7 linked regions of the Homo sapiens genome follow. The protein of the gene in region 1 purifies or fractionates together with the protein of each later gene. This does not show direct contact. Each region holds a gene or a part of one and is shown in the gene's direction. Other genes may lie near its edges.

Region 1 (2,977 bases):
GCTTTCTGAGACCCGGTTCCCTTTCGCTCCTCCCCAACTCTCTTGCCCCTGCCTTTCACTGTTCTCTTAGAAGTCCCCTGAACTGTGCCCCTGCCCATCTCTGGGCCTGTTTCTGGGGTCTCCTTGCTTGTATCCTCAACCTCAGAATCCAGTCCCTGGCCTTCACGGGCCCTCTGAAATGCTGTCTCTTACACAAAGCTTCTCTCCTGCTTCTTCAGGCCTGAAGCACTCATACCTGTCGGGAGGTGGCAAGTCGTCATCTCTCTGCCACCTCCCCCAACCCCCAGGATCCTGCAGTTCAGAACAGGTCCAAAGACTCAAATGGGCCTGCAGCTTTATTAGCAGAGTTCAGTGACTGCCAGCATTGGGTTAGATCTCTAAGCTTAAAACCCCCTTCTCAACTTAGTAAACAGTAGTGTCCCCATATCTGTGGGATGGAAAATTCCAGAAATAAACAATTGATAAGTTTTCCATTGCATGCTGTTCTGAGCAGCATGGCGAGATCTCTTGCTGTCCTGCTGTATGCCTTCTTCACCACAAGAAGGGTGAGGATAGGACAATAAGATATTTAGAGAGACACAGAGAGACCACATTCACATAACTTTTATTATAGTGTATTGTAAAATTGTTCTATTTTATTATTAGTTATTGATAATCTTTTACTGTGCCTCATTTATAAGTGGAGCATTGTCATAGGCATGAATGAATATTTAGGGAAAGACAGTATATATAGGGGTTCAGTACCATTGTGATTTCAGGCATCCACTGGGGGTCTGGGAACTGTCCCCTGCAGATCAAGGGGGACAACTGGAATGGTTATTTTTGTTGTTGTTGTTACATTTTTTGTTTTGAGATCCTTGTAGACTCACATGCAGTTGTAAGAAATAATGGAGACTCAGGCGTCCTTATGTATCCGCGTACCCTTTACCTTGTTGCCACCCAGGATAACACTTTACACAACTGTAGTACAGCATCTCAGCCGGGATGTTGACATGGATACGCTTCCATTTCCATCGCCATTGCGCAAGGCTGCCTCCTGCTGCCCTCTTGTAGCCACAGCCACTTCCCTCTCACCCCCACCCCCTCCTTAGCCTCTGGCAATCACTAATCTGTTCTTCATTTCTGGAATCTCCGAATGTTCTATGAATGGAATCATACAGTATGTAACCTTTTGAGACTGACTCTTCGCTCAGCGTTTTTCTCTGGAGATTCACCCAGGTTGCTGAACTGACCAATATTCATCTTATTGGTGAGGAGTATCCCGTGCTGTGCGTGCATCACAGTCCTTTCATCATTCACCTGTGGAGGGACACCTGGGTGGTTTCTAGTCTCTGGTTATTAATGAATAAAGCTGCAGTAAACATTGATGTGCAGGTTTCTGTGTGAACTAAGTCAGTTTTTCTGAAGCGAATGTTCAATGCTGTGTCATACAGTAGTTGCATATTCTTTCTTTTCTAAGAAACCACCAGCTCAATAACTAATGCTGGCGAGGATGTGGAGAAAAAGGAACGCTGGTGCACTGTTGGTGGGAATGTAAATTAGTACAACCACTATGGAGAACCGCTTGGAGGTTCCTCAGAAACCTAAGAATAGAGCTCCCGTCCAATCCAGCAGCCCCACTGTTTGGGTATATATTCAGAAGAAAGGAAATCCCTGTGTTGAAGAGATACCTGCACTCCCGTGTTTGTTGCAGCACTATTTACAATAACCAAGATTGGAGCAACCTATGTGTCCAGCAGCAGATGAATGGGTAAAGAAAATGTGGTGCATGTACACAGCGGAGTACTATTCAGCCATAAAAAGAATGAGATCCTGTCGTTTGCAGCAACGTGGATGGAACTGGAAGTCATTATGCTAAGTGAAATAAGCCAAGCACAGGAAGACAAGCATAGCATGTTTTCACTTATTTGTGGGATCTAAAAATCAAAACAGTTGCCAACTCATGGAGATAGAGAGTAAAAGGATGGTTACCAGAGACTGGAAAGGGTGGTGGGAGGCTGTGGGAGAGGTGGGGATGGTTAATGGGTATCAAGAAAATAGAATGAATAAGATCTAGTATTTCATAACACAACAGGGTGGCTGTAGTCAATAATAATTTAATTGTACATTTTAAAATAACTAGAGTATAATTGGATTGTTTGTAACACAAAAGGATAAATGCTTGAGGTGATGGATACCCCATTTACTCTGATGTAAGTATCATACATTGCATGTCTGTATCAAAATATCTCACGTGCCCCATATACACCTGCTGTGTACCCACAAAAATTTAAAAAGGAAAAAACTGTCAGCTGTTTCAGGAGTCTCTGTACACATTTTATATTCCCAGTAGCAGTGTGTAAAGGATCTAGTTTCTCCACATCATGGTCAATATTAGGCGTTGCCACTGTGTTGTATTTTCGCCATTCTGATAGATGTGTGGTAACCGCTCATTGTGGTTTGAATTTGTGTGGCCCTAATGACTAATGTTGTTGAGCACCTTCTTCTGTGCATATTTGCTATCTGTATATGTTTTTGTTGAAATGTCTGCTCTCTTTTTTTAAATTTTTTTCCCCTATTTTCTAATTTGAGTTGTTTGGGGTTTTTTTGGTTGTTGTTTTTGTGGGTTTTTTTTTTTTTTAACTGTTGAGATTTTAGTTTTTAAATTTATTCTAAATAGTACTCCTTTGTGGGACATAACAGTTTGTGAATTTTTTTTCAGTCTTTTTGCTTGTTTTTTCATCATAACAGAGTCTTTTTAGGGCAAATGGTTTTTATTTTGATAAAGTTCAATTTATCAATTTATCTTATGGATTGTGCTAACAACTCTTTACCTAGCCCTAGAGCCTAAAGATTTTTTTGTTTTCTAAATTATCTTAATGGATAACTTTTTTTTTTTTTTTTTTTACAAATCAACATTTTATGTAGTTCAGGTGTACAATTTAATGTGTTACTGTATTTTATTTTTATTTTTCGAGACAGGGTCTCACTGTTGCCC
Region 2 (3,500 bases), on another chromosome or scaffold:
TTGTCGTTTGGCCTGGGGGTGTCCCGGCTGCTCTTGTCACCCTGGCCCTTGCCTGTGAGGCAAGTGTTCCCTGAGTCCCTTGCCCTCCGCAGGCTGGTGAATGTGCTGAAGATGGCCGCCTCCTCTGTGAAGAAGGACCGCAAGCTGCCCGCCATTGCTCTGGACCTGCTCCGCCTGGCACTCAAGGAAGACAAGTTCCCACGGTTCTGGAAGGAGGTGGTGGAACAAGGGCTGCTGAAGATGCAGTTCTGGCCAGCCAGGTGCGGGCGACGCGTGTCCTCTCTCGGCCCCCTTCCCTGTCCGTGAAGTGGGCTAGGCCACTAGTCCTGAGGTTCCCACCAGGGGCACCAAGGGCTCTGACCAGGCTCTGTCCTGCACCCCCTTTAGCTACCTGTGTTTCCGCCTGCTGGGCGCGGCCCTGCCCCTGCTGACCAAGGAGCAGCTGCACCTGGTGATGCAGGGAGACGTGATCCGCCATTACGGGGAGCACGTGTGCACTGCTAAGGTGGGTAATGCCCGTGCAGCTCGACACTGCCAGAAAGGCTAGACGTGGAGCTCTCCCTGCCAAAAAGGGGAGCAGGGCACCTCGGGGGCTTGGCTAGAGCTATGGGTGTCCCCTCCGTCTGGGTAGTGAGCTGCCTGAACCCCTTTCCCTCGGACAAATTTTTTTTTTTTGAGATGAAGTTTTGCTCTTGTCGCCCAGGCTGGAGCGCAGTGGTGAGATCTTGGCTCACTGCAACCTCCGCCTCCCAGGTTCAAGCGATTCTCCTGCCTCAGCCTCCTGAGTAGCTGGGATTACAGGCGCCCAATACCACGCCCAGCTAATTTTTGTATTTTTGGTAGAGACGGGATTTTGCCATGTTGGCCAGGCTGGTCTCGAACTCCTGACCTTAGGTGATCCACCCGCCTTGGCCTCCCAGAGTGCTGGGATTACAGACGTGAGCCACTGTACCTGGCTTCCCTCTGACAGTTTTGATAAAGTCAGGCCCTTCTGCCAGCAGGCCCCCTTGTGGGCATGGATAGCCAGCGGGCTGTTCAGACCTCTCTCCGCCCCCGCCCATGTGGCAGTGATGAGAACAGTCGTCATGACCATGTTTGGGCACCAGTGAGCCTGGTGCCCAGTAAGTGCTGCTGGGTTGACTGTTCTCACCAGCTCATTTTATCTTTGCAGTGAGTTTCAGAGAGCTGTCATTCTGGGTGAGGGGGAGACTTGAAGTATCAGGCAGTGGTTAAGAGCTTGGGTTGGATGGTGGTGCACACCTGTAGTCCCAGTTACTCGGGAGGCTGAGGTGGGAGGATCCCTTGAACCCAGAATTTTGAGGCTGCAGTGAGCCATGATCATGGCACTACATGCCAGGGGCACAAGTCTAAAAAATTGAAAGGAAAACAGCTTGGGCTGTGAAGCCGGACACTATCCCACTGGGAGCCTCTGACCCTGAGAAGTTACCTCTAGGTGTTTTTGTGTCTCACTGTACTCACCTGTGCAATGACAATATTGGCCAACCGCAAAGAGTTGCTAAAAATGCTAAGCTGCCGCCCAAAAAGGCGGAGCGCGGGTGCTGGCACTGAGTAAGCGCGTGAGAGGTGGTTGTTTTTGGTCCCGAAGATGACACGGCTAGGAATTGGCAGCGTGGGCTTTGAACCCAGGTCAGTCTCGCCTCCTAACTACCACTCTGCCCTGCGTTGAGCCAGGAAAACAGGCCATCCCCATCCAGCAAGGCGGAAAGAGGGGCCTTCTGGGGCCGGAGGTGCTGAAGCTGGGGCAGTCAGACCCACAGAGGCCTTGACGCCAGACAAAAGCACTGGGGTGACTGGACTGTTGCAAGTTCAGGCACAGCCTAGCTGTGTACAACAGGAGATTGCCGGGGCTCGATTTAACCTGTAGTGGGCACAAGCCTGGTGGGCTGTTGCCCGCCTGCCCCCGGGCTGTTGGGCTGTTGGGCTGTTGCCCGCCTGCCCCCTTGGCTGTTGGGTTGTTAACCGCCTGCCCCCCTGGGCTGGTGGGCTCAGCGCCATGCCTAACTCTTGCAGCTCCCAAAGCAGTTCAAGTTTGCCCCAGAGATGGACGATTACGTGGGCACCTTCCTAGAGGGGTGCCAGGATGACCCTGAGCGGCAGCTGGCCGTGCTAGTGGCCTTCTCATCTGTCACCAACCAAGGCCTCCCTGTCACGCCTACTTTCTGGCGGGTCGTGCGGTTCCTGAGCCCTCCGGCCCTGCAGGGCTATGTGGCCTGGCTGCGGGCCATGTTTCTCCAGCCAGACCTGGACTCCTTGGTTGACTTCAGCACCAACAACCAGAAGAAAGCCCAGGATTCATCGCTCCACATGTGAGTGGACCTTGGGGGAGGACACCTAATTTAGGAGTTAACTTCCTAGGCCTGCAGAGCCCCGCGACCCAAGCCCGCCCTCCACAGCGTCCTGGCTCTAAACCATGAGAGGAGCGAGGGGGAAGAGCCTTAGCTCTCATATGAGGCCTCAGTTTACTTGTGTGTCCCCACACTGGCGATCGGGATGGGGAGATCTTGGAGTGTTGTCTCTGAGATCAGGCAAAGGAATGTCCTGTTTTTGCTGGTTCTTTTTTTTTTTTTTTTTTTTTTTTGACAGAGTCTCACTCTCTGTGGCCTAAGCTGGAGTGCAGTGGCGTGTGATCTCAGCTCATTGCAACTTCTGCCTCCCGGGTTCAAGCAATCAAGTGATTCTCTGCCTCAGCCTCTCCAGTAGCTGGGACTACAGGCACCCGCCACCACACCCAGCTAATTTTTGTATTTTTAATGGAGATGGGGTTTCACCGTGTTGGTCAGGCTGGTCTCGAACTCCTGACCTCGAGTGATTGGCCAGCCTTGGCCTCCCAAAGTGCTGGGATTACAGGTGTGAGCCACTGGGCCCAGCCTGTTTCTGCCAGTTATAAGTGGCTCACATGACCTCGCCTCCTGCCCCGCTAGGCCTGAGCGAGCTGTGTTCCGGCTGAGGAAATGGATCATCTTTCGATTGGTGAGCATTGTGGACAGCCTGCACCTGGAGATGGAGGAGGCCTTGACTGAGCAGGTGGCCAGGTGCGAGCTGTGCTGGATTCCCAGCTTCCCATGGGCGTGTGGCCAAGGAATGGGGCCCCTTAACTCGTCCTAGTTTGCATCCCCTGGAGCCAGAAGCCTTTGGGTTGAGTCATCAGTGGGGGGCAGGCACAAGGGGACTTGGGAATTCCTCAGGAACCCGTGAAGGGAAGGGGCCCAGGAGGCACCCCAGCTGCAGGGGCCTAAAAGGTTCAGGTGTGCTCTGCGCGCCCTGCAGGCAGCTTTTGCACGTGGGAGGTGTCAGGGAAGCCTTCTGCCCCACACCTGCCTCGTCTGTGCCAGTGCAGAGCTGGGTGCTCACGTCACCCTCAACATGCACGGTTGCAAGAGGGGGCTGTCCCATGTTCGCAGGAGCAGTGACCTGACTTGGCCATGACCACACAGCCTCCCATCTGTTGGTTCCTTGAGAGGGGCACTGACTCTCTCTAG
Region 3 (2,663 bases), on another chromosome or scaffold:
TCTTGAGCTGCAAGCCTGTTATGTGTATCGTTAGGTGCTTTGGTTAGGTGTTTTTTAACTTCAGAAGTTTAACGTCATTTCAAAGGCCTCCTTCTCATAATGGAGTATTTCCTCCATATGCACATCCTGAGCAAAGGTAACCCCAATTAAAGTAGTAGCTCAGAGTTTTAAAAGTTTTAAAGTGGCATACAACAGTAGAATTGGGGCTCATCAATTATCAATTCTTTCACCCTTCAAATAATTCTTTTCTTTATTCAATGCCTGTAGCTATTGCATTAATGACCACAGCGGTCATCTCTACCTGCGACCATGGTATAGTAGCCAAGATCAAGAGAGTGATCATGGAGAGAGACACTTACCCTCGGAAGTGGGGTTTAGGTCCAAAGGTAAGTGGTACTGGGTTGCGTGCCCTGCCAGGTTCTTTTTTTTTTTTTTTTTTTTTTAAATTTATTTTTTTATTGATAATTCTTGGGTGTTTCTCACAGAGGGGGATTTGGCAGGGTCATGGGACAATAGTGGAGGGAAGGTCAGCAGATAAACAAGTGAACAAAGGTCTCTGGTTTTCCTAGGCAGAGGACCCTGCGGCCTTCCGCAGTGTCTGTGTCCCTGATTACTTGAGATTAGGGAGTGGTGATGACTCTTAAGGAGCATGCTGCCTTCAAGCATCTGTTTAACAAAGCACATCTTGCACCGCCCTTAATCCATTTAACCCTGAGTGGACACAGCACATGTTTCAGAGAGCACAGGGTTGGGGGTAAGGTCACAGATCAACAGGATCCCAAGGCAGAAGAGTTTTTCTTAGTGCAGAACAAAATGAAAAGTCTCCCATGTCTACTTCTCTCCACACAGACACGGCAACCATCCGATTTCTCAATCTTTTCCCCACCTTTCCCGCCTTTCTATTCCACAAAACCGCCATTGCCATCCTGGCCCGTTCTCAATGAGCTGTTGGGCACACCTCCCAGACGGGGTGGCGGCCGGGCAGAGGGGCTCCTCACTTCCCAGTAGGGGCGGCCGGGCAGAGGCGCCCCTCACCTCCCGGACGGGGCGGCTGGCCGGGCGGGGGGGCTGACCCCCCCCCACCTCCCTCCCGGATGGGGCGGCTCCTGCCAGGTTCTTTTGTTTGGCATTGTTGAATACTTGGGCAGCTCTTGGTGTGTTTCACCACCACAGCCTTGTATTGTGCTGGGCTCTGGGTTGTCGATGAGTGGAAACAGGCCCTGTCTTGGGCCTTAGAGATTTCAGTCTAATGAGGGGAAACAGTTGGGCATTACTCACGTAATCACACAGTGGAATGGCGAATTTCATGCACGTTAGTGGCTACCAAGGAGTGCAGAGAGGTGTCTGTCACCTGGAGTGTCCACAGTGGTCAAGGAGTCTGGTCAAGGGATTGTCTGTTAAGCCACACCGGTGTGAAGAGTGGGTTAGGTGTTGGTGAAGTGAAGAGGGGAGGGGAGAGTTCAGGGCATTGGGAGCAAGCAGCATGTGCAAAGGCAAAAAAGTAGAGTGGCTGCGGTGGGGACGTTATGTCTGCAGAGGCTCTCACTAATAAGCTTTGTGATCTTCAACAAGTCCTGTGTGTGTTGGAGTTAGTGGGCAAATTCTGAATGCTCTGGAGAGGAGTTTGAGGCCCTGCTGAGAATACACCAGGGAGGAACCTTGTTCTATTCTTTGTAGTCACCATGCCCGCTTCCAGCATTGACACCATTCTAATGTTGACACCTTGATGTTCCACCAGGCAAGTCAGAAGAAGCTGATGATCAAGCAGGGCCTTCTGGACAAGCATGGGAAGCCCACAGACAGCACACCTGCCACCTGGAAGCAGGAGTATGTTGACTACAGGTGAGGGCAGGATGTTTCAGAGCCGGGGTGGGTAGAGACGGCACACTTGCTGCCTTGATGCAGGAGTATGTCAACAACAGGTGAGGATGGGAAGGTAGAGCCCACTTGCCATCTGGACGCAGGAGTACATGGACAACAGGTGAGGAACAGGTGAGCATGGAGGTTGTAGAGCCCAGGGGAGGGGGAGTCACTTGGTTTGGGGCAAACTTGCTAAATGCAGGACCACAGGAACCAGCTCTTCAGCTCCCGTGAGATTTTGGCTGCCCAGGCCAGTTAGGGGTGTGGGCCTGCACGGCAGACAGTTATCCCTTTCTAGTCTGGCTCGTGGGACTCTAGAGGGAGTCAGTCTGCAACAGTAAGTGGTGAGTTCTTCTGTCCAGCGTCAGTATTTTGATGGTGGCTTTAGACTTGCCAGATAACACTACATAACATCAGTACTGCCCTGGAAAGCCATTCAGTGAATTTGACCTATTGCTACCTCTTTTTCAGTGAGTCTGCCAAAAAAGAGGTGGTTGCTGAAGTGGTAAAAGCCCCGCAGGTAGTTGCCGAAGCAGCAAAAACTGCGAAGGTGAGTGGCATGCTGTCCTCAGTTTGGAATGTGCTTAGGGAGATAATCCTAAGAGGCACTGGCATTCGTCTTACTTTGTGACTGTCCGCAGTCCAGCCATATACGCTAGCATCAGAGGTGCAGCGCATACACAGGTAATGCTGCCTCATACCCTGGGGTGCTTGTTTGGGCTCTGCAGGCTCCTCTGATTTGTATTCTCTGTCCTATCTGCTGGGAGGAGGAATGTGGGCTCAGGAATCAGATGGGCCTCGAC
Region 4 (3,500 bases), on another chromosome or scaffold:
TCTTGAAGGTCCAGGAATGCCTTCACTGTAATGCTTCTGAAGGTCCTGAGATAGGTGGGATGGTTTGTCCTAAGTGCTAAGGACTGCCACATGTTGCTTTTTGGGCCTTTTTTTTTTTTTTTTTAACTGTTTTTATTGAAAAATGGACCTGGGATAGAATTCAAAGCACTTTTTAAGTTGGAGTCAGAGCCTATTTCTAAATGCCAGGTTATTTATTTATTTTTAAGCAGTGGGTTATTTTACAGGCAAGAACAGTATGGCCGGGCATGGTAGCTCATGCCTGTAATCCCAGCACTTTGGGAGGCCGAGGTGGGTGGAACACTTGAGTCCAGGAGTTCCAGACCATCCTGGGCAACATGGTGAAACCCTGTCTCTACAAAATAAAAAAAAAAAAAAATGAAAAAAGTAAAGTAAATTAGCCAAGTGAGGGGGTCACTTGCCTGCAGTCCCAGCTACTCAGGAGTCTCAAGCAGGAGGATGGCTTGAGCCCAGGAGTTCAAGGCTGTCATGAGCCGTGATTGCGCCACTACATTTCAGCCTGGGCAAGGAGCAAGACCCTGTCTCAAAAAAAAAAAAAAAAAAAAAAAAAAGTTTGGAACAGTGGAGTGGCAGCGCCATCATATGGCTGTTGTTGTGCTTATGTTGAGAGGTGCTTTGGGGTTTTTTTGTTTTTTGTTTTTTATTTTTAAAATTTTAACTTATTTTAGATTCAAGGAGTATATGTGCAGGTTTGTTACACGGGCATAAAGTCAGTTTTCTTTGACACCTAAGATTAAAAAGTGAAAGATATTTTCATTGAAACTGGTTTCCTTTAACACAGTCTTTGGTTTGTGAGAATTTTCCCATTTTTGAAAAGGATTCCTAGAATACCTAAATATTGAGAAACACTGCTTACACTATAATTTCTAATTCTTACAGACTATATTTTACTTATTTTCTTTACATTTACAAAGAGTCAAGATTTTTGAGCGATTGTTTCCAGCTCTTGTTTTGAAAATTAGTAATAAAATCTCCTTTAAACTGAAGAGTGTAAAAACACTTTATTTTCTGGATAGCATATGTGGTTTGATTGAAATAACTTTGAAATCACCTTTAATTTACTTGCTTTTTCTTTTTTTTCTTTTTCTAGATACTAAAATGGATCGTAAGGATAAGCTATTTGTGATTAACGAGGTAATTTTGGAAAGTAATTGCAACAAAATATTTTTAAAATGTTAACAGTGGCTTATTTCAAAACTAAGTCATTCAGTGACTTTAAAAATTATTTTGTAAAAACTATTCAGACACATTTTATTAACTCTTCAATAACTGGTCTTCCAAATTTTTATCTCTCACAGTTTAGTGCTTCATTCATTTCTGTTTGTTTTGTCTGAACAAGCATATTGAAATTTCCTCAGGAGAAGGATTATGTCCCATTTTTTAACCCTGTAGTGTCTAGTATTATGCTAAATCCATAGTAGGTACTCAAAAAATTATCAGTCAACATATATAAAGTAAAATAAGTCCATTAAACATATATATATATAAAACCCACATGGTAAAAAGTGTTTTGCCAGTATTAAAAGTGATTTGTGTGGAACTGGCTATTAAGGTATTACAAACTGAATAGGTTACATTTTCAAAGTATTGTTTAAGATACTACACTTAGGTATTTTTTTTAACCTCTGGAAGCACAGAACATAAATTTACATTTTAAAGCAAAATTTTCAAAACTTAGAAGAATTAGGATCATTTTTTCACTATTAGCCTTCTTTAGAGCACAAATTTTTGAACCTCTGCTGTAATACCACATTATTCTATGTGCTGTAGAAACTGTTCAACAGAGCAATGTCCCTGTCATTATGGAACTTACATTCTAATGGAGACAGGCCATAAACAAGGTTTATAATTTCAAGTAAAGACAGGAGAAATAAAGCAGGTTATAGGTTTTGGACAGCTGAGGCTACACCGGAAAAACCTGTTCAAAGGGATGGTGTTTAATATTTGAGCAGAGACGTAGTGAAGGAGAAATATGGTAAAAGACCATCTAGCTAGAGAAAATGGCAACTACAAAAGCCCAGAAGTGGCACAAACTTCCTATTTTTGTGTTTATTCTAAGACCAGTAAGAAACAAAAGTTTTGTTTTTTTTTTTTAAGTTGTTAGGGTTTGTTTATTTGTTTAACTGGTTTTGGAGACAAAAGTCTCTCTCTGTTACCCAGGCTGGAGTGAAGTGGTATGATCTCAGCTCACTGCAGCCTCTGCTTCCTGGGTTTAAGCAATTCTCCTGCCTCAGCCTCCCGAGTAGCTGGGACGACAGGCACACGCCAGTATGCCCAGCTAATTTTTTGTATTTTTAGTAGAGATGGAGCTTTGCCAGGTTGCTCAGACAATTCACCTACCTCGGCCTCCCAAAGTGCTGGGGTTATAGGCATGAGCCACCTCATCCAGCCATAAGTTGTTAGGTTTAAAGTCTTAAATAATGTGGAGTTTAAGAGTACTATATTAATTAGAGTTTATGAATACTACAGTAATACAAGCCTTCACTCCTGTAATGTTTTTGTGTCTTCTCAAGTGTGACTTTTGTAAGCCTTCAAGACATTGAAGTTTAATTTGAAATAGGTTTGATATACTTAGGCTTTTCACCCAATCCCTTAGTGATTTTATAGAACCAAATCACCAGAAATGATAGTATAAATGAAGAACAACTTAAGTTTTGTGATCTTAGAATCAAAAAGCTAAAAAGTTAAAAATCAAAATAATCATTAAAAAGGATGTTTTTAGTTCTATAAGTACTGCATTTTCATAAGATTGGCTAAGAAGATTGATTATGAAGGATTAACATAAGAAGATTAGTTGTGGTATGCTTTATCCGTAGGGCATCTATTTTTAGTCTTTGTAGTTTGTCAATGGGACTATGGGCAGAAGAGGTTCCTGGCCAGGTGAGGTGGCTCACACCTGTAATCCCACCACTTTGGGAGGCTGAGGCAGGCAGATCACCTGAGGTTGGGAGTTCAAGACCAGCCAGACCAACATGGAGAAACCCCATCTCTACTAAAAATACAAAATTAGCGGGGTGTGATGGCACAGGCCTGTAATATCCCGGCTACTCCGGAGGCTGAAGCAGGAGAATCATTTGAACCTGGGAGGTGGAGGTTGCGGCGAGCCGAGATCGTGCCATTGCACTCCAGCCTGGGCAACAAGAGCGAAACTGCATCGCAAAAAAAAAAAAAAAAAAAAGGAGGGAGGTTTCCAGTAATCAGAAGTGAGACCATTTTAGATGCTAGGCCCAAAAATATGATAGATAATTTCACCCAAGATATGGGCAGAGCATCTAGTTTACCTTGGGTAGAATACCTAAGAGGAACTTTAAAGGTTCCTTCTGTGAATAAATACATGTTTAGGCCTTTGTAGCCTATTAGCCTGGTTAGGTATTTTTGAGATAATCTGGATGATATTAATCACATATAATTACTTTAGTTCTCATTTATATTATCTACTTCATTTTCCTATACTTTGCTTC
Region 5 (3,500 bases), on another chromosome or scaffold:
GCTGCCACATTGCTCTTGAGAAAGGGTTTAATTTCATTTCCCTTGGGCAGTGCTAGAAAGCTCTCATTCTCGTCCATCTCATGTCTCTTAAATGAAGTGGAGGTTTTGCTGTCTTAGTGAAGAGGCATTGTCCTTTGACTGCATCAGTGTTATTACCTCATTGCTATTGTCAGCCCATCTTCAAGCATTGGGCCACCTAGAGATAAAATGTCAAGCCATTTGAGGCCAAGCAAAAAGAGGCAGTGAGTTCATTTATTTGTTCTTAGAATTATTTGAACTTTCGTTGGCTTTGTATTCTGCCGATTTGAATTTTTCCTTCCGCAACAGGTATAGTAGGTAATGCAGTAAAGACAAAACTATTTTTGTTTACCTTGGGTAAATGTCCTAGAGACTAGTAAATAAACAGATTCTAAACCTTATCAGAAAAATACTGCTGTATATGGGAGCTATGGAGTATAGGTTGTGATTCAGGTCCTGCCAATTCCATTTTGTAATTCTCTGTGACATACTGCCTAATTCAGTCATGCTTTTTTTTAGTTTAATGTTTTATTGTGGTAAAATATATGTAACAAAAAATGTGGCCAGACGCAGTGGCTCACACCTGTAATGCTAGCACTTTGGGAGGCTGAGGCGGGCGGATCACCTGAGGTCAGTAGTTTGAGACCAGCCTGACCAACATGGTGAAACCCAGTCCCTACTAAAAATACACAAATTAGCTGGACGCAGGGGCGCACACCTGTAGTACCAGCTACTTGGGAGGCTGAGGCTGGGGAATCGCTTAAACCCGGGAGGCGGAGGTTGCAGTGAGCCAAGATCGCACCACTCATTCCAGCCTGGGCGACAGAGCGAGACTCCGTCTCAAAAAAAAAAAAAAAAAAGTACTCTTCTAACCATTTGATGTGATCTCGGCTCACTGCAATCTCTGCCTCCCGGGTTCAAGCGATTCTCCAGCCTCAGCCTCCCGAGTGGCTGGGATTACAGGTGCCCGCCACCACGTCTGGCTAATTTTTTTGTATTTTTAGTAGAGACAGGGTTTCACCATGTTGGTCAGGCTGGTCTCGAACTCCTGGCCTTATGATCCACTGCCTCAGCCTCCCAAAGTGCTGGGATTACAAGTGTGAGCCACTGTGCCCAGCTCTTCTAACCATTTTCAAGTGTACAGTTTAGTGATACTAAGTTCATTTACATTGTTGTGCAATCATTGCAGCTATCCATCTCCAGAACTTTTTCATCATCCCAAACTGAAACCCTGTACCCATTTAACACTAACGGTCCGTTTCCCCTCTCCCCCAGCCCCTGGTAACAACATTCTACTTTCTCTCTCATGAATTTGACTGGTTTAGGTGCCTAATATAAGTGGAATCATACAGTATTTGTCCTTTTGTGTCTGGCTTATTTCACTTAGCATAATGTCTTCAAGGTTCATTCGTGTTGTAGCAGGTGTCAGAATTTTCTTCTTCTTTTTTTTTTTTTTTTAATTAATTATTTTTTGAGACAGGGTCTTGCTCTGTCACCCAGGCTGGAGCAGTAGCCTGCTCATGGCTCACTGCAGCCTCAACCTCCTGGGCTCAAGGAGTTCTCCCACCCCAGTCTCCCCAGTAGCTGGGATTACAGGCATGCACCACTATGCCCAGCTAATTTTTGTATTTTTTGTGGAGATGGGGTTTTGCCATGTTGCCCAGGCTGGTCTCGAACTCCTGGGCTCAAGCAGTCTGCCCTCCTTGGCCTCCCAAAGTGCTGGAATTACAGGTGTGAGCCACTGAGCCAGCTGGAATTTCCTTCTTTTTTAAAGTTGAATGCTATCTTGTGTATATATGTGCCACATTGTGTTTATCCATTTATTTGTTGACAGACATTTGGGCACACTTTTTAAATTCAGTTTGTTTCTGGTCCATCTCCAACTGGGTTTGATACTGTTTTTTTTGGTACATTGACTTTACCCTAAAGCATCCTTTTAGTCTTGATGGTGCTTCAGTTGCTCATTTGGGGTGCTTTCTTATTTAGAAATGAAGCTCAAGAAGAGATCTATAAAAAGGGACAGTCCAAAAGAATATGGGGTGAGCTCTACAAGGTAAGACTCCTAAATTCTCTCCCATTGAGTGGTTCCTTGGGCTTTCATGATTTTGTAGAAGAAAACTAATTTTGATATATTGAAGCTCTGTTGCGCAGAGTACAGGCACCACTGCCTGTTCCATCCTCTTCCTCCTACAAAGAAACTCGGAAGGCGTACTACCATTGATCTAGGTAACTGCATTTTTTAAAGTACTTGTATAAGAGTAACAGCTATCTTTTATTATACAATCACATATTTATTACCTGTCAGTATTTTTTAAGATTTCCTGCCAAATTTATCATGCCTAGTTAAAGTCACATGCAACATTTTAAGTTATTTAGTCCACCCCTCTCCTTTTATCGATGAGGACTCCTGTCTAGAAAGGTTTAATGCTGTACCTAGCTCGACTAGCTTGTTAGTGAAGGAGGCTTTGTATATCTTGATTTCTGATCCAGTGATCTTTAACCGGCAGAGGTTTATGTCCATGCACTAATAATAACCTTCAGAAGAAAAATTTTCAAGTATAATCACGTAATTAAATAGTAACATGATAGGAAACTAGTACCGTGAAGGCAAGCTAAACTTTGTAGTTTTTTGTGAAATACACAAAACCTATAATATTACAAACTTAAAGATAATATTACAAACTTAAAGAAGTCTAAGAAGTAAATGATTTAGTTCAATAATCCATAGTAGTTAGGAAATAAGTTGAGTTTCATCTAAGCTAGTTTTTCTGTTTTAAATTCAGCAGGTTTCAAAAGCCACAGGATGAAAAACCTTTTGAATTCTGATCACTGGGCCTTGAGATTAGCCACAACGAACTCTGCCCAGAGACTGTTTTGAAGTTGTCTCTAAATATTATTATTTTATTTTTCCCAGACTCCCTTAAATGTCATCCCTCTTTTATTTGTACTGTAGCAAACCATTTTTGCCTTTCTGAATTTTCAGGTGATAGATTCATCAGATGTTGTAGTTCAAGTTCTTGATGCTAGAGATCCAATGGGTACTCGTTCCCCTCACATTGAAACTTACCTGAAGAAGGAAAAACCTTGGAAACACCTCATTTTTGTACTTAACAAATGTGACCTTGTTCCAACCTGGGCAACAGTAAGTACAACTACTAAACCAGAATAGACTATTAAGACATCTGTTAGTAAGTCAGTTGTAGGGCTTTTAGGCTAAAGTGTTGTCCGGCTGAGATTGTAGTAATGGGAGTGCTCTCATTGGAAACACGAAAGTGTGCTCATTGATAGTGGGCAGAGGCACCAGGAGACGGCTTCTGAGGCCACTGCCTGCTTCACATTATGCTCCATTAATTGCATTTAGTAACAATGAAGACATTTTTTGGAATATTGTTTTGTATTTATAAGACAGAAGAACAAAGCATTAACTGTTATACTTGGAAAAAACATTTCAAAGAATTATAGCTAACATTTTCCTTAGACAA
Region 6 (3,500 bases), on another chromosome or scaffold:
AGTAGCTGGGATTACAGGCATGTGCCACCACACCTGGCTAATTTTTGTGTTTTTAGTAGAGACGAGGTTGTTACCATGTTGTCCAGGCTGGTCTCAAACTCCTGACCTCATGATCTGCCCGCCTCAGCCTCCCTAAGTGTTGGGATTACAGGCATGAGCCACCAAGCCCGGCCCTTTCCTATGCTTAGATGCACAAATACTGTGTTTCGGTTGCTTACAGTATTCAGTACAGTAACACTGTACAGGTTTGTAGCCTAGGTGTGTGTAGTAGGCTATACCATCTAGGTTTGTATAAGCACATTCTTATGATTGTACAAAGATGAAATTGTCTAACAACACATTTCTCAGAACCTAGCCCTGTGGTTAAGTGACGCATGGCTGCATATAACATTTAGTGGGGGGGTGTAAAATAGGTGGAACTCAAAAGTTGAAGTAGTATTTTTTTTTTGTTCACAGGTCAGTTTAGGGGCTGGTGCAAAGGATGAGTTGCACATTGTTGAAGCAGAGGCAATGAATTACGAAGGCAGTCCAATTAAAGTAACACTGGCAACTTTGAAAATGTCTGTACAGCCAACGGTAAGGGCACTTACATACTTTGGATGTTGTGTCAAGGTTTAATTCTGTTTTAAGGTAGGTTTGGTGTCATTTAGTTGTGCCAAGGAGATAGAAAGTGGTTCTTTATCTTCTGTCACTGGAGTTCGATGGTCAACTCTTGAACATGGGGGCTTCTGCTGCTACTTTTATCAGAGGTGGAAAAACAGGTTCACTGGTTTGTTGATTTGGCTTATGTGTTTGCCTGTAATGTTTATTGTTCATTTTCTTCACATGTTTAGTGATGAAAAATTTCTCCCTTCTAGGTTTCCCTTGGGGGCTTTGAAATAACACCACCAGTGGTCTTAAGGTTGAAGTGTGGTTCAGGGCCAGTGCATATTAGTGGACAGCACTTAGTAGGTATGTTATTTTTATATATTATACTACTTAGTTTGTCCTCTTTAGTGCAGTTGCTTGGTTCCCAGTTTGGACTTAAAGCATGGGTATAGTACTACTGTCTTTTTAATAGGTTCCAATGTGAGTCTAGAAATTGGAGAGGACAAATAAATTTTTGGGGCGGGGGGGAGAGGAAATCTTGCTGTCACCCAGGCTAGAGTACAGTGGCACGATCTTGGCTCACTGGAACCTCTCCGGGATTCAAGCGATCCTCCTGTCTCAGCCTCCCCAGTAGCTGGGGCCACAGACGTGCACCACCAAGTCCAGTTGCGTTTCATAGTTATAGTAGAGAAGGGGTTTCGTGATGTTGGCCAGGCCGATCTTGAACTCCTGGCCTTAACGTGATCTGCACGCCCTGGCCTCTCAAAGTGCTAGTATTACACGTGTCAGCCACTGTGCCTGGCCTAAAAATTATTTTTTAATAAAGACAGTCTCATTATAACGGCTGGAGTGCAGTGATGTGATCATAGCTTGCTATATCCTCGAACTGCTACTGGGTTCACCTCAGCCTCTGGAATAGCTAGAACTACAGGCACACTCCACGCCTGGCTAATTTTTTTTGTATATGTGCAGATGGGGTCTCAGTATGTTGCCCAGATTGGACTCTTGGCCTCAAGTGGTCCGCCTTGGCCTCCCCAAAGTGAGATTACAGGCATGAGCCACCCTCCCCAGGCTTCTTGCATTTAAAACCTGGCAGTGAACATTAGGCCTCAAAATACTTTTGTTAAAAAGTTCCTTTTCCCATGTGCTCTTTTTTTTTTTTTTTTTAAATAGAATAGAAGTCTCAGTTTTTAGAGTATTTACTATCAGTGTTCTTTTTTTTTCTGACTTCTTGCTGCTTGAGTTTTATAATGTCTAATAAATTGTATTTTAGCTGTGGAGGAAGATGCAGAGTCAGAAGATGAAGAGGAGGAGGATGTGAAACTCTTAAGTATATCTGGAAAGCGGTCTGCCCCTGGAGGTGGTAGCAAGGTTCCACAGGTAGAGATGGCAATTTTATTATAGGTTTTGTATTATAGCTTTTAGTTTGGTGATAGAACAGCTCTTGTTCATGAGTACGTATCTTTTCTTTTAAAAGAAAAAAGTAAAACTTGCTGCTGATGAAGATGATGACGATGATGATGAAGAGGATGATGATGAAGAGTAAGTATGATTTTAGAAACTTGATATACTTCCGGAATCTTGACAAAAAAAGGAATTTGACATAGTTATATGCATGAGGGTTTTATAAAAGTCATTTACAAAAAGCCATCCTATGTAATAGTTTATAATAAAAGGGCAGGTGGTCATCTGTTGTCAGTTTAAGTTAAATGAGCTGAGTTGAAAGGATATTGGGTCTGTGAGCCTTTACAATGCTGTGACTTGTGACTCTTCAGAAGGGTAGACTATAGTGTTTGTGAAGTTTGATTATGTCCCTTTGTTCTGAAGATTTAGTGGATGTGTTATACCCATCAAGCCTGGTATGTTTTATGGTGAGCAGTTAATGAGATTGGGTTGAAAGAAAATATGATTAAATAGCTCTATATTCATTTTACAAGTTGTTACTCAAGGTTTGTTATTCCCTAAAAGGATTTTGTCTTATGGTTTTATGTAGATATTTATTGACAAAAATAAGATTCTAAAAGGGATATTAAGATTTTCTTGGGATTTAAAATATGGTTGGAAACAATATTTGATGACTTTATATTAAACTAGATCAAACTATTGTTACAAACAGTTAATACGCACACTGGTATAAAGTACTGTTTATAATTGGTCTTATGTGTGCCAGTACCAGTAATGCATTGAATACTTTGATTTGGCTCTCAGCTTTGTCCTTCAGTTCTGAGGTTGGTCCATATGCATTTATTGAAAACAAATATAAGAACATGCACTTTAAAAGAGAACCTGCATGAAAGATCAAATTGGGAGTTTAGGTTTTAAGCTGGTGGTTCTTCAAAATCTTTGAGCATGACGATGAAGGCAGAAAACAGGAAAAAGGCCGAAAGAGCCGAAAGCTTAAAAATTCAAAGTATGACCAGGCGCAGTGGTTCACACCCGTAATCCTAACACCCAGCCAAGATGAGAGGATCTCTTGAGGCCAGCCCGGTCAAAATAGCAAGACCCAATCTCAAAAGAAAAATAAAAATTCAAAGTACTTGCATGTCAAACTTATAAATGAACGCAAACTTAAAGGTAGTATTTGACTGTTGCTGTTTTTGTTTTCTTTTTTTTTTTTTTTTTTTTTGAGATGGAGTCTCCAGTTGCTCAGGCTGGAGTGCGGTGGCGCCATCTCGGCTCACCACAACCTCTGCCTCCTGGGTTCAAGCGATTGTCCTGCCTCAGCCTCCCGGGTAGCTGGGACTGCAGGCTCGGGGCACCATGCCCTGCTAATTTTTGTATTTAGTAGAGACAGGGTTTCAGTATGTTGGTCCGGCTGGTCTTGAACTCCTAACCTCGTGATCTACCTGCCTCGGTCTCCCAAAGTGCTGGGATTGCAGATGTGAACCACTGCGCCCAGCCAAATTTTTGTA
Region 7 (3,500 bases), on another chromosome or scaffold:
GGCTGCTGAAACAAAAATCTCAGGCCCCAGAAAAGCCTCTTGTCATCTCTCAGATGGGTTCCAAAAAGAAGCCCAAAATTATCCAGCAAAACAAAAAAGAGACCTCGCCTCAAGTGAAGGGAGAGGAGATGCCGGCAGGAAAAGACCAGGAGGCCAGCAGGGGCTCTGTTCCTTCAGGTTCCAAGATGGACAGGAGGGCGCCAGTACCTCGCACCAAGGCCAGTGGAACAGAGCACAATAAGAAAGGAACCAAGGAAAGGACAAATGGTGATATTGTTCCAGAACGAGGGGACATCGAGCATAAGAAGCGGAAAGCTAAGGAGGCAGCCCCAGCCCCACCCACCGAGTAAGTATGGGCCACCTCACCACTGAGAACCGAGGCACAGCGACTTCACCAAGGCCTGTCTCCTTATGGAGGCTGGTGGCCTCACCGCAGTCTCTCCATCACTTTACCCTGATGTCGTCTGTTCCTTTGTTTACTCGCTGTTACTTGTTTTCCCCTAGAGTGTGCGCATGATAAGGCAGGGCCTGCTTCTTCCGAGCGTTGAGCAGAGCTCAGCATTTAGTGGGTGCCAGTACACGTGTGTGGAAGGAAAGCGTGCTGAAGCCAGAAAGACCCAAGTATGAGGCCTGTCCCTGCTTCTCGCCAGTTGGGTGGTTTGGGGCAAGTTTCTGACGTCCTCTGTGCCTTGTGGTAGTCATGGTGGCATCATAAGGAGATTGTGAGGTTGGCACTCTTGGCTCAGTGCCTGGTGATTACTTCAACCCTGTGATGGAGCCAGGTGTGGTGGCTGTTGCCTGTGATCCCAGCTCCTTGGGAGGCCAAGGTGGGAGGATCACTTGATCCCAGGAGGTTGAGGCTGCAGTGAGCTGTGATTGCACTACTGCCTCCAGCCTGGGTGACGGAGCAAGACTCTCAAAAAAACAAGTGAAAAGAATAAACCCTGTGCTGGCCACCCACGTGGGGTGGACCGGGAGTCAGTGGCCTTCTCTGAATGGTTCAGCTGGAGGTGACGTGTTCATAAGTTACAGCTGGCTTCATGTTGCCTGGGTGTTCAGGACACAGTCGCTGATGGCTGAGGAATGAGCCATTTGGGGGCCTCCCTGTGTTGTGCTAGGCAGGCTGTCTGGGATAGAGTTCAGTGAGGTGGGCCTGCTCCTCCCTCTTGAGGCTTATTGTCAAGTGCAGTAGACAGACTGTAAACTGCAGCTGTTGATTAAGTGTGGTCAGGATAAATCTAGTGAGGAGAAGGTATTGGGCGCCTGGAACAAGAGGGACGTGTCCATTCAGTGGGGCCAGGAATGGCTTTTCTAAGGAAATGACATTTAACCTTAGCCCAAGAGACAGATTCCCCAGGCAGGTGTTACGTGCCTGTGTGAGCTTCCTAGTACGGAGGGCAAGGGGTTCTGTGTTTCCATCTTACAGGCATTCTGTCTGTCTGTTTCCTAAGTGTTCAATAATGAACGTGTTACCTTCATAATTAAAATGTTAGCACTCATTACACTTGGGTGGTGGGTTATGTGTTTCTGTTTTATATTCTTTGTGTTTGTCTGTGTTCCTAAATCTTGAATAATGAGTGTATTTTCTAATTAAAAAGAAAAGAGATGAGGCCAGGTGCTGTGACTCACACCTGTAATCCCAGCTCTTTGGGAGGCCGAGGCAGGTGGATCACTTGAGGTCAGGAGTTCAAGACCAGCCTGGCCAACATGACGAAACCCCGTATCTACTGAAAATACAAAAAATTAGCCAGGCGTGGCAGTGGGCGCCTGTAAAATCCCAGCTACTAGGGAGGCTGAGACAAGAGAATCACTTGAACCTGGGAGGCAAAGGTTGCAGTGAGCCAAGATCATGCCACTGCACTCCAGGTTGGGTGACCCAGTGAGACTCCATCTCAAAAAAAAAAGGAAAATGCCAAGATGATCAAAATAGCAGAAGCAGCAGGGCCAGCAGTCGGGGTGTCTGGGGCCAGCCTGTGGGAGAGGCAGGCTGTGCCATCGCTCCACTCACCTGCACAGTCAGCCCCACAGCCCCACCCCACCAGTTGCACTAGGGTCTTCTGGTGATCAGCCTGTTATCTTTGCCTTTTAGGGAAGACATCTGGTTTGACGACGTGGACCCAGCGGATATCGAAGCTGCCATAGGTCCAGAGGCGGCCAAGATAGCGAGGAAACAGTTGGGTCAGAGCGAGGGCAGCGTCAGCCTCAGCCTCGTGAAAGAGCAGGCCTTCGGCGGGTACGCTGGTCTCAGGGAGTGGGGTCTGCTGGGGATGCTTAGCCGTGGAGGGCGGGGCTTCTTCAAGGAAGAGGATGCTTTCCTCTCCCTGAGGTGAATGAGGCAAGCACCTCCCAGGGTCCTGCTAAGAACCAGGACCACACAGAGCTTGTCACGTGGGTGCAAATGAGTGAGGGGCAGAGAGCTTTTCTCTGCTGACACTTAGTCCATGGATCCCTGGGGCTCTGACCTGGAGCCCTGTGGCCTGCCGTGTTTATTAAACTACAGCCTTTGGTTACCCTTCAGCCTGACAAGAGCCTTAGCCTTGGACTGTGAGATGGTGGGCGTGGGCCCTAAGGGGGAGGAGAGCATGGCCGCCCGTGTGTCCATCGTGAACCAGTATGGGAAGTGCGTTTATGACAAGTACGTCAAACCAACCGAGCCCGTGACGGACTATAGGACAGCGGTCAGTGGGATTCGGCCTGAGAACCTCAAGCAGGGTATGTCATCCACAGCTCAGGAACTTAGAAGGGAAAGTAGTAACTGGATTCGTTTTCTCCCTTTTGTTCCCTTTTCTGTCTGAGACCACTCACTGCAGCTGGTTTTGATGCGTCTTGTCTCCTTTTGGGGCGATGGGTTTTAAAATACAAAAGGCATCCTTAGACGGCTTTACACCCATTTATGCCTTGCACTTCATTGCCTCCTGTCCGCTGACTTCAAGACCAGGCCAGTAGCTGGGCACGGTGGCTCATGCCTGTAGTCCCAGCTACTCAGGAGGCTGAGGAGGGAGGATTGCTTGAACCCAGGAGTTCAAGTCCAGCCTGGACAACATAGCGAGACCTCATTTCTAAAAAAAATTATTATTTTTTTTTGAGATGGAGTTTTGCTCTTGTTGCCCAGGCTGAAGTGCAATGGCACAATCTGGGCTCACTGCAACCTCCGCCTCCTGGGTTCAAGCGATTCTCCTGCCTCAGCCTCCCGAGTAGCTGGGATTACAGGCATATGCCACCACACCCGACTAATTTTGTATTTTAAGTAGAGACAGGGTTTCTCCACATTGGTCAGGCTGGTCTTGAACTCCCGAACTCAGGTGATCCGCCTGCCTCCGCCTCCCAAAGTGCTGGAATTACAGGCATGACCCACTGCACCTGGCCTTCTAAAAAATATTTTTAAAAAATTAGCTGGTCCCACTTGGCTCGGGCCACCCTTGGTCTAATCACCCCTGTTCGGGGGGTACAAGTGGGGTTGGTGGTGGGGTGGTCCCCAGAAGCAGGCAAGGCTGCCTCTG

The links.
Region 2: the proteins of LYAR (region 1) and MYBBP1A purify together in Homo sapiens (affinity purification with mass spectrometry; 3 studies listed by BioGRID and IntAct, with this or other methods). This does not show direct contact.
Region 3: the proteins of LYAR (region 1) and DKC1 purify together in Homo sapiens (co-immunoprecipitation; 2 studies listed by BioGRID and IntAct, with this or other methods). This does not show direct contact.
Region 4: the proteins of LYAR (region 1) and BRIX1 purify together in Homo sapiens (affinity purification with mass spectrometry; 2 studies listed by BioGRID and IntAct, with this or other methods). This does not show direct contact.
Region 5: the proteins of LYAR (region 1) and GNL2 purify together in Homo sapiens (affinity purification with mass spectrometry; 3 studies listed by BioGRID and IntAct, with this or other methods). This does not show direct contact.
Region 6: the proteins of LYAR (region 1) and NPM1 purify together in Homo sapiens (affinity purification with mass spectrometry; 3 studies listed by BioGRID and IntAct, with this or other methods). This does not show direct contact.
Region 7: the proteins of LYAR (region 1) and REXO4 purify together in Homo sapiens (co-immunoprecipitation; 2 studies listed by BioGRID and IntAct, with this or other methods). This does not show direct contact.

Annotation. Positions count from the first base shown.
Region 1 is NC_000004.12:4,270,178-4,273,154, reverse strand, and holds part of LYAR (cell growth-regulating nucleolar protein), read left to right. Parts: intron 1-2,977. UniProt on the Homo sapiens protein: Plays a role in the maintenance of the appropriate processing of 47S/45S pre-rRNA to 32S/30S pre-rRNAs and their subsequent processing to produce 18S and 28S rRNAs. Also acts at the level of transcription regulation.
Region 2 is NC_000017.11:4,548,885-4,552,384, reverse strand, and holds part of MYBBP1A (myb-binding protein 1A), read left to right. Parts: intron 1-92; coding exon 93-260; intron 261-387; coding exon 388-505; intron 506-2,031; coding exon 2,032-2,327; intron 2,328-2,942; coding exon 2,943-3,053; intron 3,054-3,500. UniProt on the Homo sapiens protein: May activate or repress transcription via interactions with sequence specific DNA-binding proteins. Repression may be mediated at least in part by histone deacetylase activity (HDAC activity).
Region 3 is NC_000023.11:154,772,864-154,775,526, forward strand, and holds part of DKC1 (H/ACA ribonucleoprotein complex subunit DKC1), read left to right. Parts: intron 1-267; coding exon 268-386; intron 387-1,738; coding exon 1,739-1,842; coding exon of another isoform or gene 1,843-1,846; exon of another isoform or gene 1,847-2,331; coding exon 2,332-2,410; intron 2,411-2,663.
Region 4 is NC_000005.10:34,918,711-34,922,210, forward strand, and holds part of BRIX1 (ribosome biogenesis protein BRX1 homolog), read left to right. Parts: intron 1-1,129; coding exon 1,130-1,173; intron 1,174-3,500. UniProt on the Homo sapiens protein: Required for biogenesis of the 60S ribosomal subunit.
Region 5 is NC_000001.11:37,582,438-37,585,937, reverse strand, and holds part of GNL2 (nucleolar GTP-binding protein 2), read left to right. Parts: intron 1-2,004; coding exon 2,005-2,071; intron 2,072-3,001; coding exon 3,002-3,160; intron 3,161-3,500. UniProt on the Homo sapiens protein: GTPase that associates with pre-60S ribosomal subunits in the nucleolus and is required for their nuclear export and maturation.
Region 6 is NC_000005.10:171,390,849-171,394,348, forward strand, and holds part of NPM1 (nucleophosmin), read left to right. Parts: intron 1-456; coding exon 457-576; intron 577-857; coding exon 858-951; intron 952-1,861; coding exon 1,862-1,968; intron 1,969-2,065; coding exon 2,066-2,130; intron 2,131-3,500. UniProt on the Homo sapiens protein: Involved in diverse cellular processes such as ribosome biogenesis, centrosome duplication, protein chaperoning, histone assembly, cell proliferation, and regulation of tumor suppressors p53/TP53 and ARF.
Region 7 is NC_000009.12:133,411,511-133,415,010, reverse strand, and holds part of REXO4 (RNA exonuclease 4), read left to right. Parts: coding exon 1-346; intron 347-366; exon of another isoform or gene 367-674; intron 675-2,089; coding exon 2,090-2,233; intron 2,234-2,518; coding exon 2,519-2,712; intron 2,713-3,500.